5 separate regions of the Homo sapiens genome follow, and all the other regions are linked to region 2. Evidence: fine-mapped expression QTL. A gene starts in region 2. Each other region holds a variant in brackets. All regions are shown on one strand. Distances are between the middles of the regions.

Region 1 (4,116 bases), 43 kb before region 2:
AGCTTTCATAAGCATTGCAAATGCCCAATTCCTTCATTGGCTGGGGAGGGCAAAGCCTAAATGGGCAGTGGGCTATAGATGGTGGCCTTCCAGGCACTGGCAGCAGGACACTTCAGGGCATCATTCAAATGCAGAGGGGAGAGCATTCTGCCCAAGGGCAGGCCTATTTGGGGTGGGCAGGGCAGACTTACAATGGAGACTACCATACTTACGTGGCTCTCTGCAGGCCACGTGACCCCTTCCCTCTGCTCCATGTGCCCAGGATTCAAACTCAGGCTAGTCTGATTCCCAAAACTGTGGGCCTCAGTTTTGGGAAAACTGAGAAAATTGGGCCTCAGAATAGGGATAGGGATGGAGATGGAGATGGAAGAAAATAAACCAGGCCCTCTGCCTGATCCCCTCCCTACTTTGGCTCTGGGGTTGGGAGATGCTGCAGAGGCTTCATCCACTCTCTGCCCCGACCCCCTAACTCCCTCTCCTGCTCTGTCCACTGGGCTGGACCCTGTCTGCTGGGCCTATCAGGGCTCCCCGTGTGTCCTCCACCAGCCAGCAATGGCCAGAGAGCCCAGCTGGCCCCAGCCTATCCCCTGCCCACCCTGGGCCCTGCTCAGAGGACAAGGCTGAACTGATTCTGTCAGGAAGGGTTAGTCTTGTCTCAGGCCTGGCTGAATGCAAAAGGACGAGACAAATGCATGTGGACAGCCTCGATCCGGAGTGCTCTGTCAAACATGCTGGCCACCTCTCCGGGAAGATCACTCAGACTCCTTGCATCCCATCTTGGGAAGGCTGGCCTGAGGCTCCAGAGAGATGTTGGGAGATGCCAGGTGCCTGCAAGCCAAGGGCCCTCCGGGGAAGGGTGTCAGGACCCGCTGCTTCTTGCCTCTTGCAGAGAGGGCAACAGCTGGCTCCTTCTCCTGCCCCAGGTGAAGACTGATCAGATACTGATTCCAGGATGAATCCAGCAACATTAGGCCCTGCCTGGTCCCATGGTAGCATCTGGCTGGGCTTTTGGCCTATAGTCGAGTAGATAGAGGGAGGGCTGATAACTAAGTGACTACAACAGGACCTCCCTGTGTAAGGGTTCTAGCTTATTTCCACACTCTTCTGGCACAGACAGGTTGGCAGGGCAGCTGGTAGCAGGCACAGCAGATGGAATGTCAGGAATGAAATCCACAAGACTCCAAGCCCCTCCCAGGGTGAGCTTGCCACAGGCCACACCAGGAAGCTGAGCTCCTCACCCAAAGCCTGCCAGTGCCTACGTGGCAGTCATTCCCTTGTCAACAGACTTCCCACTGGCTTCTCTTGCTCCATTATTAAAAGCAAGAACCAAAAACTTCACTGAGGGGATAGAATCCCACTAATAAGCATGTCCACGCTTTGGGTCATCTTAGGGGCACAGAAAATCTGAGTATCCCCCATAGCATCAGGCAGAGCAGATTTCTTGTCAATTAGCTCAGTTGGTTGGAGGCTGCAGCCATGAACATGCTGGCCTCAGGGCCCTCACAACACAGGTGGGTTAGGGAATGAATGAAAGTTCAGCTATTATTCCTGCCAGAGACTCCAGGCCCAACCTGGCCTCTAATGAGCTATGTGACTTTGGGCAGGCAGAAAAGTGTCTCTGCTATGGTTTGAAGGCATCCCCCAAAGGCCTCCAATGCAACAGTGTTGAGAAGGGGGACCTTTAAGAGGTACGTGGGTCACGAGGGCTCTGCCCTCACGAATGGATTTGTCCTCATCGCAGGAGCGGGCTCATTATCATGAGAGTGGGTTGGTTATAAAATTGAATGTGGCCCCATTCCTTCTCTCCCTTTCCCCCATGTAAGGCCCCACCAGACATGGCCCTCCAGTGGTGGAGTTCCCAACCTCCAGAACCACGAGACAAATGAACTGTTATTTTTTCATAAATGACTCAGCCTGCAGTACTCTGTTACAGCATCACAAAATATGCTAAGACACCCCTGAGACTCATCGGCCACCTGTCTGTCAGCTTTGCCGCAAAAATGATTTGGGAGCAGCTATAGTCAACTTTCCTCAGACTACCTCCTGCTGGCACATTACGGCCACCTGCTGTGTGCCTGGTGTTTTTCTAGGTTCTTGGAATAAAGTGAACAGGCCGGGTAC[G/A]GTGGCTCACGCCTGTAATCCCAGCACTTTAAGAGGCTGAGGTGGGCAGATCACCTGAGGTCAGGAGTTCGAGACCAGCCTGGCCAACATGGTGAAACCCCGTCTCTGCTAAAAATACAAAAATGTGCTGGGCATGGTGGCAGGTGCCTGTAATCCCAGCTACTCGGGAGGCTAAGGCAGGAGAATCGCTTGAATCCGGGAGGCAGAGGTTGCAGTGAACCGAGGTCTCGTCAGTATACTCCAGCCTGGGCAATAAGAGCAAAACTCCAAGTCAAAAAGAAAAAAGAAAAAAGAAAAAAAAAACAGAAAGAAAGAATAAAGTGAACAAAGCAGGCAAAAATACCTGCCCCCAGAAAGATCACATTCAGTGGATGTGCCCATGTTCCTTCCTCTTCCTAAAGCACTCACAAATATCAACATTCCCCTGAACTCACCACTGAGAGTCACTTCTCAGCGTGACAATGTTGACCAGTCTTCACCTGCTGTGTAAAGCAGGCCTGCCCTATAGTGACCCCCCAAACAGGTGCAGAAGGCAGGTCCACCATCAGCCCATGGCCAGCACACCAGTTAGATACCTGCTGTTGCCAGGCAGCTGTCTGCCAGCCCGTAGGCACTAGAGAGCCTTGGGGCCTTTCCTGAGCCCTTTTAAAGAAGTGCTTCCTTTAGACATGGACTCTCAGGCCTGCTCAGAGCGGGGAGGGTGCTGCTCCGCCCCAAGGCCTTCCCTCCATCCTTTCCTCTGGCAATCACCGTGATAGCAGCAACGCCCAGCCTGAGGCCTTGGGTGCTGCTTCCCTCAGGAAAACTGGCCAAAGAGTAGACAGCAGATACTTTCTCCATATTCCCACCCCCACAACACAGGCCAGCAGCACAGCAGCTGTAGACAAGATTTCATAAAGAACTGGAGGACAAGAAAGGGGAGATTAAGGAGCCCTAGGCTCTAGGGCCTGGCTCACACAAGAATGGTCTTCCTCCTGCCAACTTCTTGGCCTTTACAAAGGCCCCACCTGACCCAGCCCAGCCTCCTGGGCACTGGCCAAGTTCCACACCAAGACTACCAGACCCCGCCAAGTCCAGGCTCAAGAGAGAAAGCCAGACCCTCTCTCCTTCCACCTACCTGAGAGAGGCCTGTCCTCAGGTGTCTGGCTCACAGATGGGGGACCCAACTGGGAGTCACTCCCTTCTGGAAGCCCCAGGCCCTATAAACAGGTCCCCGGCCTCACTGCTGGGCCTCGGCCTGGAGACAGCGGCTCAGTGCAACACAACCACGCCAGAGCTGATCAGGGGAAACCCACGCAGCAGTTGAGGGGGCTGGGGCTTTGCGGGTGCAGTGAGGGGACTGCTTCCCTTCAGTGGAGTTGCTGCCGCAGGTGAGGGGAGGAAGATGAATCTGAAGGTTCTAACGTCAGCCCACAGGCTGAAGCGAAGGCTGGCCTGAAGTGTTCCACCTGGGCCCCCACCTGAGCGGCTGAAGAGTTCTGTTTCCTCAAGGCCCACAGAGCTCCTCAGAGGGAAGCTTTAGTAGCTATTTCCTTAGGAAGGCAAGTATGTGTGCAACATTTCCTAATAAAATGCAAAGGCTGTTGGAGGCACTCCAGCCCCCTCATTTAGCTCTGAGGTGTAATTAATACATAAATTAAGCTCCTGCAGACTCACAAATGTCCAAGAAAAAAAATGAAAAATATAATTAGTTTGCCCATCTGACTCCATCTGTCAGCTCTGAGCTCAATGCTCAACGTAGCAAATCCTGAGGGCTTTGGTCTCGCATTGGCTGGGCCCGGCGCTGCTCCTGCCCTGCTCCAGGGAAGTGGGCCCTCCGCAGCAGCTGCCCAGAGCCCGGGCTCTGGACTCAGCCTCCAGGGCAGCAAGGACTCTGGAGTACACAGACTGCAGGCTGGGAGCCGGGGCACTCGGCAGAGCAGCCAGGACCTTCTCTGTGGCCCTGAGCGCTGGCTAGGGGTGGCAAGGGCACCCCGGGGAATTTGCATGTGCCTC
Region 2 (4,116 bases):
GCCAAGACTTGGAGGAGGTAGGGAGGGTACCTGGGGATGCCTAGGGTCCAGGCAAGGGGAACGGCAGGGGTCAGGATCCTGTCAGATTCATCTGAGGTGGGACTGAATGTGAGCAGAGAGAGGGAGACAGAGGATGAGGGCAGAGAGAAGGCCAATCACACTGGGCCACGGCTATTGCAAGGACTTTACTTTTGCTGGGGGAGGGGGTAGAGTTTTGAGCAGAGGAGAAATGCGATCTGGCAAACATCTTGCAAGGATGGCTCTGACTGTTCTATCCTTGGCAGAGGACACCAGAGTCTGGCCCATAGAAGGTGCTCAACAAAGCTCAGCACATTGCACTCCTCCCTGGAGTAGGAAAGGGCTCGTCTGCTTTGGGAAATTTGGCTCTCAAGCTTCTGGAAACACCTGACCCCATGCCAGGTGAGACAAGCTCACACTCAAGGCCCCCTTAGTCCAACGGTCAGTGGACAGAACAAGCACCAAAGGTCAACGGCGTGGGCGGTGGCCTCTCTGCCAAAGTGTGTGGGCCCAAGTAGGGTATTCACCTCCCTCCCTGTCTGTGAGAAATTTCAGACCCCTCTACTTTTTCCAGCAGGAGTTCATGTTCCTTTTAAGATAATCCTCTATAGACCTCTGGCAGCCCAGCCTTCAAAATGTCTCCCCCTGTCTCTCTTACTCATGGAGAGCCCCGCTTCCCCGCCTCAAAAAAAAGTCTTCCTCTCTCTTACTCATGCATGGAGAGCCCCACAAAAAGACACTGGTTCCCAGGGATTCTTCCAAAGATGCTGGAAGACCTCTCAGTGTTTGCATTTCCCAAGCTCGGTTTCCTTGTGCTGTCCTTGGGCATTAAAGGAAGGCTATTCAGCCATCCCCATCAGCAGGAGCAGGCATCAAAAGAACAGCTACTGCAGGGGGAGCATATTAGGGGCACCAGAGGGGGCTAGGAACTGGGTCTTGTCTTCTCAAAGTTTACAACCCACTGCAGGGGCCACTCACCAGCCCTGGCACCCTAAGGGCAGGAACCTCCATTGGGCACGTGTGTCTCCAGCACTGGGAGCACTGTCTGGCACCTGGGGCACTGTGAGTGTTGAATGGATAAAGGACCTGTAAGAATTGCCATAAGAGGTGTTGCCCTGGGGCAAGGTGGGACAGGAAAGTTCTTGCAAGAGAAGAGAGGCTCTGGCCTTGGGCCCTGGCTGAGCAGAGAGCTGGGAGGTGGGTATTCGGGTAGGAGGAAAGCTGTGGAGGGGGAAAGCAAACTGCCTGCGGGGGTGGGGGGGTTCTCGGCGGGAGTTGGGGGTGGAGGGAAAGGCGCTTTACAGCAGCACTCCCTCCACAGGGAGACCAGAGCTCTGCCTCTTCCTCCCCACCGTGCCCTTTGGGGTCCAGTTGTGGGGCCTTCCTTGAGGCCCAGCTCCTGCCTCTGGCCTCCGGAGGCTTATCTCCCCAACAGAGGCTGGCTCCCCAGAAAACAGGATTCTTAGACTTCCTAAAAATAACCTGAAGCTCCTTATCAGAGGCTAATAGTGTATGTCTCCCAGGAATACTCTAGAAAGAGTACCAGGGGTCAGGAACCCCCACTCAGCCTCCACGAATCTGAGCGGAAAAGCCCGGGTCTCCTCACCTGTAAAGAAAATAACTGCAGCCGGCAAATGTGACCACAGGTGAGAAGGGGCTTCGGACCAGGGCGCACACCTCTAGAGAGGTGCCCACAGACAGCCTCCCCTTACTTACGCCCTGCTTCGCTGCAGTGCTGTGAAGCCATCGGCATTGGAAGTGCGGAGGGCAGCGGGCAGTGCCCCAGGGGGAAGGGGGGACGGGTAGGGTTTCAGAGCCCAGAAGGCCTAGACAGGGAGGCAGCTCCGGGAGAAAGGTACCCGCCATCCCACCGGTCTTGGAACCTGAGGACTGCTGGGAAGGGTCAAAAGTCTGCCCTAAGGGTGGACAAGGGACAGAGATTGGGGGGGGACCACAAAGGCCTGGGCGCAACCTTGTTGAGAGGGAAGGGATCCGGACCCAATCTGGAGCCCTGGTCTCTTCCCACCTGCAACCGTGGCTGCCACTTGGCCTCGGTTATAAAATGGACAAGGATTCGAGGTGCTCCTCAGGTTAAGAGAGGGGGGCCTAGAGGTCACCCTGGCCTCGGTGCCCTCCGTGGCCGGGTTAAGAGGAGGTCCCGGAGTTCTGCTCACTTCAGCCGTGTGCCGGGCACTGCAAATCAGGAAGTGTTGGCGCCGGCTGGCGACCTCCCGCCTGGGGCCAGGGGAGGAGGGTGGTTGGACGCTGCCACCGCTGCCGGGGCTGTGCAGGGCTGGGCGGGGAGCGAGGACCCGGCGGCTCCTGATTGCGGCCCCGGGGGAGGTGGCCGAGCCGGATAAGCTGCGGCGGGCTGGAGGGCGGCCACCTCCCCTGCAGGTCCGGCCCTCCCGGGCGGGTGGGGCGCGGGGGAGGAGGAGCCTCGGGCCGAGCCACCGCCTTCGCCGCGGACCTTCAGCTGCCGCGGTCGCTCCGAGCGGCGGGCCGCAGAGGTGAGTGTACCCTCCCCCGGTCTCCGCGGGGCTGCGTGCTGCGCCCGGTCCCCGAGACGCCCGCCCGGTTGCACCCTGCGCCGTCGCTGCGCGGACCTCGGGTGCCGCCACACGTCTGGAGGCGACTTCTGTCCCCTGGGACCGAGCCACGTGCGCCCGGCGGCAGAGAAACCGGGTTCCGGGGCCCCCACCCCGTGTGCCTTCCTTCCCTAGGCGTGGAAGCCGCTTGCGCCGCGCAGGTTAGGCAGGGCCGGCGGCGACAGTGGCGGGGAGCAGGCTCCGGAGCCCCGGGTGCAGATGTGGGCGCCCCTCCGGATGACCCCGGCTGAGTCCACAGGTCCCGTGTGCCCCACGGCTGGGGCTCTGGCCAGCGGTCCCAAAGGAGGGCTGGTAGCTGTGGGCGGGGATCTTCCAGGCTCTTCCTCGCCAGACCTCCCAGTCCCTTCGCAGCCGAACAGGGCAGGGACAGGGGCAGGTGCAGGGGCTGGGCAGGGGCGCCCGACCTTGGTCCCCAGGAGGAGGCTGGCCTCACCAGTGCCCGCCTCTGCCCGCGGAGCCCTTGCCTGGCAAAGTTCCCCCTCCTGCCCGGCAAAGCTCCCCCTCCTGCCCACTTCCCCGAAATTTGGGGACAGGCTGCCCGGAGAGGTGTGGTTGGAACTTTGGTCACTCTGGGTAAATGAAGGGGAGGGTGTGCCCAGATAATATGCGGTTTGGGGACCAGAAAGCCGGATCCGTGGGGAGAAGCAGGAAGGTCCCGCTGGAGCCCTGGCAGAGGGCACAGAGAGGCCTCCCAAATATCCAGGGCCACCTCAGAGATGGGCTCCAGAAGTGGGGATTCTGGAAATGCCCCCAGGGAGGTATTTCTGTCCATCAGAGTGCAGCCATAATATAATTAACAGCAGATATTCCCATTTATGTGTGCCAGGCATCTTGCTAAGGGCTTTGAGCACAATATCCCAGTTAATCCTCACAACAGGAAGGCACCATTATCTCTTGTTAAAAATGGGGAAACAGCCTCAGAGAGTCCACGTATTTTGCAAGGATACACAGCTAGGAAGTTGCAGAAGTAGAATTTGAACCCAGAGTTATCTGACTTGGAGCCCAGAGGAACCTACCACTGGGGCGAAACAGGCTGTGTCCTCACGGGGATTCTGGCAGCCCCAAGAATACAGTGCTGAGAGCCAGAAGGTCCACAAAACCAAAGGGTCTCACCTGGGTGTGTCCTCTCAGTCACCTGCAAGGCTTGTTAAAAATATAGATCCCCAAGTCCCATCCGAAGCTGACTGAATCAGCTAGGGGCACCTGGAGGACCCAGACTATGTCTTACTCATCTCTGTCCCTGGTGGCCTGCAGAGGGGCTGGCAAGGAGCAGGTGCTTAGTGAATGTCTAATGGGTAAGTGGGCGGGGTGGGGTAGATGGTGTCACTAGTGTCCTGAAGGGGGCTTAAATGGAGCAGGTGGCCTCAGCCAGGCAATCCGGCAGCAGGTATGGAAGTGACACAGTCTAATGCTGGCCTCAGAGCCAGCAGGGAGCTCAGGCTGGGCCACTTGTCCACCTGGGGGTTGAACAGCCTGCCCCAGGTTTGCT
Region 3 (4,116 bases), 36 kb after region 2:
TATCTCTGACTAAGGTACCAACCACCGATTTCTGAGTTCAGTAGGAGACAGTGAGACAGAGGCCAAGGAACCCCAACCCTGGGCCTAAAAGTGGTCCAGTCAGTGTTTGCAAACTGGCGGACACTCACTAGTGGGTCATGCAATTGATTCCATGGATCACAAGCAGCATTTTAAAAATGAAATAAAATAGAATGACAAAGAAAACAGTGGAGTGTTTTGCATGGTGTCGGGATACTTTTTCAGTTATATGGAATTGCTAGTTTTATTTGCAAATGTAGCATACCTCGTTGTCTACCGGACAGCAGAGTAAAACATGGTTCTTACTGTGAGTCCCTGTCAAATAGGCTGAAGCCAGAGCCCTCTTGGAGAAACAGAGATAACCCAGGCCTGCCTCCCATCCGTGGACTCAGATGCTGAGGGATGGCTCTGGCAATCTATTTTTGCAGCTCCCTAAGTGACTGATAGGTGCGCATGCCGCAGTGTGTGGCAACTTCCAGTGCAGGAAACACAGGCAGTGGAACCCGAAGACCTGAATCTCAGTCCCAAGACCCCCACTTACCTGCCCCGCATCATCAGACAAGTTTCCTAGGCCCTCGGAGCTTCTGCTGCTCACTTGTGCCTGTGTCCACCCCATATGGTCATCAAGAGGATTTGAGCTGGACACGTTAAATGCAGGATGCGTGCAGCCAACAGTGGCATGCTGGCTTTTGAGGTAAGCTGCAACCTTCTCCTTTAAAGTTAGCGTGGCTAGTGAGAAGTTACCTGAGCCCCATCACCCTCCCCTACACACATGTCCACAGCAGACACCAGGCTATGGGGACAGCCATGGTTCTTGAGGGGCCTTGGCTGACCCCTAGATCTGTAATGCTTTTGTTACCGGAAAAGGGTCCCGATCCAGACCCCAAGAGAGGGTTATTGGACCTCACGCGAGAAAGAATTCAGGACCTGTCCATAGAGTAAAGTGAAAGCAAGTTTATTAAGAAAGCAAAGGAATAAAAGAATGGCTACTCCATAGTCAGAGCAGCGGCATGGCTGCTCAGCTGCTTATACTTATTGTTACTTCTTGATTATATGCTGAACGAGGGGTGGATTATTCATGAGTTTTCCAGGAAAGGGATGGCAATTCCCAGAACTAAGGGTTCCTTACCTTTTTAGACCATATAGGGTAACTTCCTGACATTGCCATGGCATTTGTAAACTGACATGGCGCTAGTGGGAGTGTTTTTTAACATGCGAATGCATTATAATTAGTGTATAATGAGCAACGAGGTCACTCTCGTTGCCATGTTGGTTTTGGTGCTTTTGGCTGGCTTCTTTACTGCAAGCTGTTTTATCAGCAAGGTATTTATGACCTGTATCCTGAGCCGACCTCCTATGTCATCCCGTGACTAGCAACGTTTAACCTCCTGGGAATGCAGCCCAGTAGGTCTCAGCCTCATTTTACCCAGCCCCCCATTCAGGTGAAGTCTCTCTGGTTTGAACACCTCAGACACTTCGTTTAGCTAAAAACCATTGAAACAGTGTATTGATTCCACAAAGAGGTGACTTGTGCTTGCATTTATCCTTTTGTTCCCAAATCTGTTTTCAAAGTTTTACATGTTGTTTTGTGTTCCTTTGGGTATTTTTTTTTTTTTTTTTTTTTTTTTTTTGAGACGGAGTCTCACTCCGTCACCCAGGCTGGAGTGCAGTGGCACAATCTCGGCTCACTGCAACCTCTGCCTCCCGGGTTCATGCCATTCTCCTGCCTCAGCCTCCCAAGTAGCTGGGACTACAGGCGCCCGGCACCACACCTGGCTAATTTTTTTTTTTTTTTTTTTTTGTATTTTTAGTAGAGATGGGGTTTCACCGTGTTAGGCAGGATGGTCTCAATCTCCTGACCTCATGATCCGCCTGCCTCGGCCTTCCAAA[G/A]TGCTGGGATTATAGGCGTGAGCCACCGCACCCAGCCTTCCTTTGGTATTTTTTTGTTATTGTTTTGGTTTGGTTTGGGTTGTGCTAAGTGTTTCAATTCAGCCAGTTTTAACTGGCTGTTAGATATTAGACTGCAAAATACTCCAGTCAGAGCAGCTCACCTGCGCAGAAAAATGAGGGTTCAGCTTTTAGAACCTAAGTTCTTTCCCAGAGTTAGAGGAACTGCCTGTGACCTTGCCCACTCCAGCCACCTGCCTGAAATAATGACAAGACCAGCCTGACCCCAGCTTCATGAGCAATTGTCCAAAGCCCCTTTGTGCCGTAGTAATTGAGCACCAGCAGGAGCTACAACGACCTGGCTGTTTCTTTTTTGCTAACAAGCTTACGTATAATAAAAATGGCTCTAGCTTGGGGATCTTATTAATCGCCTCATGACAATCCCTCTCCTTTTGGGCTTCTTTGGGTTCTGGGATTTTTAAATTGTTCCCAAGGAGAGTTTTTGGGAAACAAACTCCCTGGAATCATGCAGGCTTCCCACTGGGACAGGAAAGTCAAAGGCCCTTTGTTATTGGCTGGCCTTTGGCTGTCAGCCCTTGCTATGAACCACTGGCCTGAGGCTGGAACTTCCTGCTGTCTGCACCATGGGATTTTGAATGGCACAAGAATGAGGCTATATGAACAGGAGGAGCTGACTGCCACTGGTGGGCCTGGGAGCAGCGTCTCCACACTGTCCCTGTGCAGAGCCCAGAGTGCCCAGCAAAATTCATCACTCTCCAGATCAGGGGCTGGGGACAGTGGCCCACACAGACCAAACACTGGAGCTACAGGGCATGTCACCCGAGGGAGATGCAAAGACCTCACTGGGGCTACTAAGGCTGGCTTTCCAGGCCTGGATGGGCTCCCATTGCTGCACCTCCTGGGAAAGCCCACGACACAGAGGTGGGCGCCAAAAGGCTCTCAGTGGGGCTTTGTCTAAGGAACAGATAGGTCCAGGTCTTCCTCAGGCAAGTGACCTGAGCAGAGGGGCCCGTGTGGACTTTTCACCCTGAAGCTAGAAGGGTGTGGTGACGACAGTCTCCTAAATGAGTGGCTTTAGTCCTAGCTGCCCATCAGCCTCATCCGCCGAACCTTAAAAAACAACAGATGCCCCGCCCCAAACCAACTTAATCTGAATTTCTGGAAGTGGGGTTTGGGCACTAGTATTTTACCCAAGCTCCCCGGGTGATTCTAATGTGTAGCAAGGTTTGAAAACCACAGTCTAAAAGCCACAGACTGTTAAACTCTTGGGGATAAAGGGCATCACCCAGCCATCTTGGCAACACCAATAAGTCCACAATGAGGAGGGGTGGGAGGGCCCACAGTTAGTTAGGGCTGGGCACCTGGCTGGGGAACATCAGGGTGATTGACTTCAAGACTTACTCTTTTTTTTTTTTTTCTTTTTTTTTGAGACGGAATTTCACTCTTGTTGCCCAGGCTGGAGTGCAATGGCGTGATTTTGGCTCACTGCAACATCCACCTCCTGGGTTCAAGCGAGTAGCTGGGATTACAGGCATGCGCCACCACACCTGGCTAATTTTGTATTTTTAGTAGAGACGGGGACGGGGTTTATCCATGTCGGTCAGGCTGGTCTTGAACTCCCAACCTCAGGTGATCTGCCCGCCTCGGCCTCCCAAAGTGCTGGGATTACAGGCGTGAGCCACCGCACCCAGCCAAGACTTATTCTTGATGGTCAGTGCTGGGGACTTTTTTAACCACAGTCTTCCACACTAAGAGATTAGAATTTAGAAAAGTTGGGGTGGCTCAGAAGTTGCAGGGGATTTGGAATTCTTGACAGACACTTCTGGAAGTGGCAAGGATTTGCTTATGTGCAACTGACAGTCAAGGAGTCTTCTCTTTGGGAGGTGACCACATTAAAATGATAGGAATTCACTGTGGGTGACAGCATAAAGCCAATCGTGGCTTCCTCACTCTTCGTGGTGAGCCAGAAGTTGTTAAAGACTGGGCCAAGAAGATTCCAAAAATGGACACAAAGCCAAGAAGAACCAGAGAGGGTGAGGAAGGATAGAGAAGGTTTTATTTGGTTATTTTACTTGGGCCCAAGAATGTTGAACGTGAGAACCTGTCTGTGAAATTGTAGTGTGCAGCCATTGGAAAATGTTTATTATTATCTTTAGCAAAAGCTTTACAAGCAATTCTCCCACACCATGT
Region 4 (4,116 bases), 59 kb after region 2:
TTGGAGACGGAGTCTCGCTCTGTCTCCCAAGCTGGAGTGCAATGGTGCGATCTCAGCTCACTGCAAACTCCACCTCCCGGGTTCAAGCGATTCTCCTGCCTCAGCCTCTGGAGTAGCTGGAATTACAGGCGCCCACCACCACACCTGGCTAATTTTTGTATTTTTAGTAGAGATGGGGTTTCACCATGTTGGCCAGACTGATCTCGAACTCCAGACCTCAGGTGATCCACCTGCCTTGGCCTCCCAAAGTGCTAGGATTACATGCGTGAGCCACGGCGCCCGGCCTGAAAACATTAATTTTTAATGTTCCCTATGGAGAGGCAGCATAGCACAGAGGTTAAAAACACAAAATCCAGGCCAGACATGGGGACTCAGGCCTGTAATCACAGGAATCCGGGAGGCAGGAGGATCACTGGAGTCCAGGGGTTCAAGACCAGCTTGGGCAACATAGTGAGACCCCATCTCTACAAAAAATTTTTTTAAAATATTACTCAAGCTGGTAGTGCACAACTGTAGTTCCAGCTTCTCAGGAGGCTGAGTTGAGAGGATCACTTGAGTCCAGGAGGTCAAGGCTGCAGTGAGCCATGATTGCACCACAGCACTCCGGCCTGGCTGACAGCAAGACGCTATCTCTAAAAAAAAATGGTAAAAAAAAAAAAAGGAACACAAAATCTGGAGCCACACTGCCAGGGTTTCAGCACCACTTCTACTACTTCCTAACCCGATTTAACCTCCTCTTGCCTCAGTTTCCCCAGCTATAAAATGAGGGTGATTATAGTTCTTACCACATAGGTTTGTAATTAGGTTATGAGAAAAATGACAGCTTCTCTTTTAACTTAATTTTATTTTTAGCTTTTATTTTAGGTTCGGTGTTACACAGGAAAACTCATCTCATGGGGGTTTGTTGTACAGATTATTTCATCACCCGGGTATTAAGCCCAGTACCCAAAAGTTATCTTTTCTGCTCCTCTCCCTCCTCCCAACTTCCACCCTCAAGTAGGCCTCGGTGTCTGCTGTTCCCCTCTTTGTGTCCACGTGTTCTCATCATTTAGCTCCCACTTATAACTGAGGATATGTGGTATTTGGTTTTCCGTTCCAAGAGTTTCTCTTAGGCTGAGGTGGGAGGATAGCTTGAGCCAGGGTGGTCGAGGCTGCAGTGAGCTGCCATCCTGCCACTGCACTCCAGCCTGGGGTGACAGAGTGAGACCCTACCACAAAGAAAATAAAAAGAGAGAGAGAGAGAGAATGAGAATGACAGAGAGAGAAAAAACAGTTTCTCTTTTTAAGGTATTTAAAACAGATCTTCCACAGAGTAAGTGCTATATAAGCGTTTGCTAAATAAACATCCTAACATGAATAGGAAACCGTTATTACTGGCTATAAGACCTTAAAGCAGTTACAACCTCAAAATAAATAAAAACAAAATAATATGATTAAATTCTAGCTAGATTTTTTACCTGCTAAAATGCTTGGTGGAGACCCGCTCTCAAAAGAACAGAGAGAGGGAAGCAAGTGAAGTCTTAAGGACGTTGCCATCACCAAACTGAAACCTCTTCCTCACTCAACCAGAAGACCTGAAAGAAAACTGAAGTAACAGTAACTGTCTTACTGCGCTACCCACCCTCAACCATCCCCAGGCCCACTAGGAGCATGTTGTACATGTTCTGGAAAGTTCTGGAAAGGCCATTAAGATATAAAAATTGGTAGCCAGGTGTGGTGGTGGACGCCTGCAATCCCAGCTACTCGGGAGGCTGAGGCAGGAGAATCACTTGAATCCAGGAGGTGGAGGTTGCAGGGAGCCGAGATCATGCCATTGCACTCCAGCCTGGGCAACAGAGCCAGACTCCGTCTCAAAGAAAAAAAAAAAGATATAAAAAGTTGGGAAAGTGAGAGGTGTCCCGAGAAGCCCACATACATGAAAAATGAAACCAGGCAATCCTATGTGGATCTATTTATCACAAACGCCGCTGGGCTGCAAGTGAAATCTCTTATACCAATAGGTCGGCTCTGATGCAGGGAGTCTGTTTTCACTTTGAACTGCTGTTCATGGCGCTGCCAGGGTGGGACTGTCACTCACCAAGCCTCCTTCCTGTCCTTGGTCTGGGGTGATTCGGCACTTCCCAGTAGGTGACTCCAGATGACAGCCAACAGCCAGCTTGCTCCTGTTCTCTTTCGCAGGCAGAGCTGGCTCTTAATTTTCATGCATTTATTCTTTAGCCACTTGAGACGCCTGGCTGGAGGGATGGGTAAGAGATTTGGCATCTTGGTGCCTCCAAGCCTCCCGTCCAGCATGGTCCAGGTTAACAAACACCTGTAAAGCGTCCGTCTCTGCCGGCCCTGACGGACAGGGTGAGCACCCCGGTGCATCCTCCCTCCTAAGAGGATTAAGCGGGGTGTTTGGAAAACAGAGCTGCATCCCTGGAGGGAAGGTGCCACAGAGACATCAACACACAGTTCTGCATAATCGGTTCAACAGCAGAACAACAAAAAGGGGAAGAGAAGATTAAAAAATAATCCAAATGTC[A/G]TAATACTGAGGAGTGTGATGAAATGGGCAATCGGGTGGAAGCATTAAACCTAGAATCACTAACCACCCCCGCTTCACTCTTCAAAACTCAAGGCTGCGGGGGGAAACAACATGCTCGTCCTTGGGAGAGCTCCTCTAAGCCCCTCCTGAAAGACGGATGTCCACTTCTGAGGCTGTCTTTGAGGATGGGCACAGGGGAAGCTGTGGCAGTCCAGCCACTCTGCGGGGATGTCATGAATAATTAGCAGGGTCCTTCACAGTGGAGGGCAGCCCTAGTCTCTCTCCCTCTTCCTTGGTGGGAAGGAAGCCCAAGTCCCTGAGAGACACTGGTGAACATCTCCCTGGAGGCTTTGGGCTGACTGTCAACAGTGGCACCAAGGTGTAGCTCGGGGCAGGGGTGCAGGCGCTTAGCACTCAGCAAGATCTGTGGGCCTCCTCCCTGCCTCCCATTCTTTGTCATGAGCTTGGCAATGGAAGCTTCCAGTCCGCCTCTCAGTGCTGCACCCCCTCTGCCCACACTCCTGGGCATCCAGCCCAGGGCCTGCCTTGGTGCCAGCTCTGCCCTTCCTGCCTCCTCCTTCCTGCTTTGCCTTCTCCCCCTCTCTCTTCCCCATATCCATTTCTATTTTACAATGGTTCTTTTGGTTTTTTTGTTTTTGTTTTTGTTTTTTTCTTGAGAGGGAGTCTGGCCCTGTTGCCCAGGCTGGAGTGCAGTGGCGCCATCTTGGCTCACTGCAGCCTCTGCCTCCTGAGTTCAAGCGATTCTCCTGCCCCAGCCTCTGGAGTAGCTGAGATTACAGGCGCCCACCACCACGCCCAGCTAATTTTTGTATTTTTAGTAGAGATGGGGTTTCACCATGTTGGCCAGCCTGGTCTTGAACTCCTGACCTCAAATGATCCAACCGCCTCAGCCTCCCAAAGTGCTTGGATTACAGGTGTGAGCCACTGCACCTGGCCCTATTTTACAATGTTTAATGACCCAAACTTGAGGATTTTTCCACTTCTCTACACCATATAATCAAATCAAAAAATCAGATATTAGGCTTTGACAATGGGACTGAATCTTGGAAACTGGAAAGTCCAGTCTCAGGACATCCCGGAAAGTTGAGCACACAAGCAAGTCCCATGCAACTGTGTGATGAAACAGCCCCACACATCCGGGAGCACAGCCAAGGCGTCCTGTGCCACCTCCCTGGTAGAATCTGGCTTTTCAACTTGCTCACCCATGAGAGGAAAGCGGTTTTAGACATCAGGCTTACCCCTCTCCTAAGCCACACCCTTTTCTCATTCCCAGCTGAGGAACTGAGCCTGAGACACTGAGGTTCCCAGCTGCCTCCATGATTCGCCAGCACCCAGCTTCAGTTTCACATCCTCCCAATCGTCATAGCCAGGACAGCATGCCTCACTGACCACGAGGGAATGTCACATCCCGCCTGGCTGAGCCATGCCGCAGACAGGCTCCTGGCTAAGCACTTGGCCGACACCCCAATATTCAATGCTGACACACCACAAAGGCATAAGTAGGCTAATTTTGCGGATGATGAAAATAGGACTCAAACCAAACTGTGTACAGTTGTAGGGCTTATTGAGGG
Region 5 (4,116 bases), 160 kb before region 2:
TGACAGAACTGTTAGGAATATCAAGTGACATAATGGCCTATGAAACCATCAGCACATTCCTGGCCCTTAGTAAGACAAGCCCAAGTAATTATACCTAACATTATAATCGTGTATACTGTCAAATAACTCTAGATGGAAAAGCTGTTTCAAAATGTGTGTCCTGTTTCACCAGGGTGAAGTGGTGGAAAGAGGACTGGGAGGGGAATCAGAGGACATGGGAGTGAGTCCTGGTTCTGTGAATGACTACCTTTCACTGCTTTTTAAAATCCTGTGCTCCTTCTTGGGTTTGTAAAATAGATGCAGACTGTTCAAGAAATGGGCCCCAGAGAACATCACATACCGGGGCCGGTGGGTGGGTGGGGGGTTGGGGGAGGGATAGCATTAGGAGAAATACCTAATGTAAATGACGAGTTGATGGGTGCAGCCAACCAACGTGGTACATGTATAACTATGTAACAAACCTGCACTTCGTGCACATGTACCCTAGAACTTAAAGTATAATAAAAATAAACAAACACATATGATATTCACTATTGTTAAAAATCTCAAAAAAAGAAAAAAGAAATGGGCCCCAGCAACCCAGGAGAGTCTTTGGGTGGGCCCTGAGGGGTGCTCTGCTAATTGCCCAGAATGTGGGTCCACCCCTCTCTGGCTGACCTCACCTGCCCCAGCTTTCTGTCTGCCTGGACCCCACCGCTCTCCTCCCCACCCCTTGCTCAGATCTTGGATACGTGTCTGTGGGTGTGCCCCCAGCTCCCTTTCTTGGGATCCTGTGGCCTTTTCCTCTGGCTTCATCAGCTCAGTTATGGGAGGAAGGCTGTCTCCTTTCCCACAGCCCATCCTGCAGGACTAGACCAGCGAGGCCAACACCCAGCTTGTCCACAGCTATCCTTTGAATGTTTGTGCCCCCTGCAAAATTCATGCTGAAACTTAATCCCCAATACAACCATCCTAAGGGGTGGGAACTTTAGAAAGTGATTATACCATGAGAGATGGGATTAGCATCTTATAAAAGGCTGGAGGAAACTAGCTAGGCCCCTTTTCATCTTTCTTTTCCTTCTGTCATGTAAGGACAAAGCATTCGTCCCCTCCAGAGGATGCAGTAATAAGACACCATCCTGGAAGCAGAGAGCAGCCCTCACCACACACCAAACCTGCTGGCACCTTGATCTTGAACTTCCAGCCACCAGTAAGAAATAAATTTCTGTTATTTGTAAATTACCTACTCTCAGGTATTTTATTATAGCAGTAGGAACAGATTAAGACACCCATGCTAAAATTAGGATGAGTCCATTTCCCCACCCATAAAATAAGGATGTTGAGTCAGATGCTCTTGAAGGTTCCCTTCAGCTTTCACATTTTGTGGTCCTGGCTCTTCTTATTGGTGTATAGAGGACTTTTGTTGTTGTTCTTCTTCTGTAAAATGCAACCTGTGAATGCAACCAAGAGACAGGTGGCTGTAAAGGTATGAGTTGCGCTGGGGGAACTGAAACCCCGGATTAATTAAATCTTCTCCAAGTGTCTCCCATTTATCTCACCCCCACTAACTTTTGGGCCTGTCGATTGTGAGAACACTGAGCCGCAGAATTGAAGCAAGATGATCCCCAACCAAGTCGTCAGCTGACTGCTCCACCCTGGGGTGGGGGTGGGGGGGGCTGCTAGGAGTTGGGGGGAGCAGGGGCCAGGGCTGGAGATGGTCAAAGCAGAGACCCTTCTGAAGCAGCCTCCTAAGGGTGGAAAGTGAGACATTGCCAGTGAGCCTTCCCTAAAGGCACCATCTGGCTGCCCCTACCCCAGGTGTCAGAGCCCCTGAGGTGTATTCTACAGCACGAACAGCTCTAGCTGCACTCTCTATCCAGTGGCTGCTAGTCACAAGTGGTTATTTAAATTTCAAAGATTAAAATTGAATTCAATTTTTAAATTCATTTCCTCAGTAAAATTAGCCCTCTTTCATGGGTTCAGTAGCCAGCTGTGGCTATTGGCTACCATACTAGACAGCACTAATAGGAAACATTCCCTTCATCACATTGGAATGTGTATGGCACTGCTCAGAGCGTAGGAAAGGAGGCAACAAATTTCCCTGGCATGAGAAAATGCTGAAGATGGACGTAACAGACACCCTGAGGTCATACCTCAGTTCACTCTGAAGATGTGCTAGCATGTCTTACAATGTCCCAAACCTCCTATTGGACTCCAGTGGGCAGAGGGGTCAGGCTGTTCTATTAAATGGGGAGCTGTCCTAAATGTCAATATCAACTCAGGATGGTCCCTGAAACCTCAGGCAGTTTCCTGTCTTATGGAGCTCTCCATAAGATGGAAGTGGGGGATTGGTGGGAGATGGCAACTGGCATTTTTTTTTAACATTATCTGCATGCCAGGAGTTCTGCTAGATGTTTCACATGTTTATTTAGTCCTTACAACCAATCAGTGAGATGAGGTAAGTTGCCGTCCTCCCTAATGGCTCCTTGAGATCAGGGACTGCTGAGTTAATATTTGCCAAGTTCTTAGATTA[T/C]TGCCTGCAACACCGTTAAGTGCCATACAAGTGTTTGTGAAGAAAGAATCCACAGAATTCAGCTTTCGGTGTTCCAAGCAAGTTAGTGGCAGAGTAGTGGATAAAATCCAGCCCATGTCAGCTCTCCAAGGCTCTTTCTGTTACACCATTGGCTTGGAAGTCTGACAAAGAGGACATCAGGTTTTTTTTTTGGACATCTTATCTCATTCTCTCTTCCTAATAGCATTCTGACTTTCTTTTGGGAAGCCACTATTTCCTACTTTGGATAGTGCTGGAAATCTATAAACTGTGGTGCCCTACCCTGTCCTGACCAAGAGACAGGAGTTAAGCCAATGAGACTCTCTTTTAGGACTTTGAATCCTGAGCCCAAAGACACAGTGTCGGAAAGCCTTGTGGGAGCTCCCTTGCCCCAGCATCAGTGCCTGGCAGAGAGTTGTGCAGGTTCTGCTGCGAGGATCCCCAGAGCTGGCCTGCTGTCATATGCTCTGTTTTTAGCCTGGTTCTCCAGCTTCCTGAACGTCTTTGAGCTGCCTGATAGCCTTCATTTGATTCCCTTTTTGATAGAATGGCAAGAGTTGTTTGCTTTGGCTTACAATCAAAGAAGCTTGACTGACCCTCCTTGAAAGGAACACAAAGTCACAGCCCTGAAAAAGAATTGCTGGGAGGAACATGGAGATGAAAGAAACTAGAGTGGAAAAGAGACTTGGGTCTCAACAGCCATTTTTCTATCCCTGAATGATCCCAAATGATTCTTCGTGGAAAAGCAGAGGTGTTGAAGAGTGATGCGATAAATAGGGCAATTGGCCCTAATTCTTCACCCTCCCTATGTCCACATTCTTTGTCATGTGATTTTGCAATTCCTCCCACTAGAGGTGAAGTATATTTTTCCACTTCTTGAATTTGGCTGTGTGACTCTCTTCTCCAAAGATACACTGGTGAACATGATGCAGGCAGAGGTTTGAAATATGCTGGTATATTTAAGCTGGCCCTCTTGTGCTCCTGCAGCTGCAATGAGAATGGCATGCCCAAGACCTGTGGAGCAGATCTGGACCCAGTAGATTCCTAGAATCACCTGTGGAGCCTGAGCTCAGCAGAACTCAGCTAACCTACAAATAAAAGAGTGAAAGTAAATGCTTATTTTTTTAAGCCACTGACTTTTGGAGTTGTTTGTTATGCAGCATTATTATTGCAATAGCTAGCTGATACAGGCAGACTGTAAATCAAGGTGCTAAAGTCCTCTGATAAACAGTAGCATAATTATAAATAATAATTACAATAACCTTTTATTAATCCTGTTTCAGGTACTGGGTATTCACTTTGCATGTGCCATTTCATCTATCCATCACAAGCAACATTGCATTGGTGCTATTATTTTCATTTTATAGACAAAGACCCTGAGGCTCAGACTCGATGAGTGACTGATAAACCTCATACATAGCAGATGGCAGGGCTGAGCTTCAAAGCCAGCTGTGTCTATCTCTGCTTACTGTGGCTTTAATCCCTCTCCACTCCTCACCCCACTCCACTGCTTCCCATGGCTCTGCCACTGGATTTAGATGCCTCTACTCAGTTCAGCCCAAGTATGATATATATACAATTTTAGG

Direction of the effects. Alleles are on the strand shown, and positions count from the first base shown. SD is a standard deviation of normalised expression in the study named. Not every link is listed here.
As copies of G replace A in region 1, the expression in cerebellum of the gene that starts at base 2,474 in region 2 goes down (large effect, 0.90 SD a copy in GTEx).

Evidence for each region. PIP is the estimated chance that this variant, and not a neighbour inherited with it, causes the effect. A credible set is the group of variants that fine-mapping cannot tell apart.
Region 1: its variant is the best candidate, but not a certain one, in a credible set for the expression of STEAP3 in cerebellum (GTEx, PIP 0.67).
Region 3: its variant is the best candidate, but not a certain one, in a credible set for the expression of STEAP3 in T cells (TOPMed, PIP 0.77).
Region 4: its variant is the best candidate, but not a certain one, in a credible set for the expression of STEAP3 in whole blood (GTEx, PIP 0.55).
Region 5: its variant is the best candidate, but not a certain one, in a credible set for the expression of STEAP3 in lung (TOPMed, PIP 0.58).

The regions. Positions count from the first base shown.
Region 1 is chr2:119,178,239-119,182,354 of GRCh38, forward strand. All of the region lies in intron 2 of LOC107985941 (a long non-coding RNA gene), which reads right to left. Among named protein-coding and RNA genes, the nearest start is that of C1QL2, 22 kb to the left of the region's middle. The variant G/A (reference allele first, on the strand shown) is at 2,122.
Region 2 is chr2:119,221,361-119,225,476 of GRCh38, forward strand. It overlaps STEAP3 (STEAP3 metalloreductase), which reads left to right and starts at 2,474. Exons shown (of 6, transcript NM_182915.3): 1 at 2,474-2,528. RefSeq lists silencers at 2,217-2,996, 3,057-3,126.
Region 3 is chr2:119,256,977-119,261,092 of GRCh38, forward strand. All of the region lies in intron 5 of STEAP3 (STEAP3 metalloreductase), which reads left to right. Among named protein-coding and RNA genes, the nearest start is that of STEAP3-AS1, 10 kb to the left of the region's middle. RefSeq lists an enhancer at 2,440-3,213. The variant G/A (reference allele first, on the strand shown) is at 1,909.
Region 4 is chr2:119,280,294-119,284,409 of GRCh38, forward strand. It overlaps a transcript of C2orf76 not described here. Among named protein-coding and RNA genes, the nearest start is that of STEAP3-AS1, 33 kb to the left of the region's middle. The variant A/G (reference allele first, on the strand shown) is at 2,525.
Region 5 is chr2:119,060,324-119,064,439 of GRCh38, forward strand. No RefSeq gene overlaps it. Among named protein-coding and RNA genes, the nearest start is that of C1QL2, 96 kb to the right of the region's middle. The variant T/C (reference allele first, on the strand shown) is at 2,513.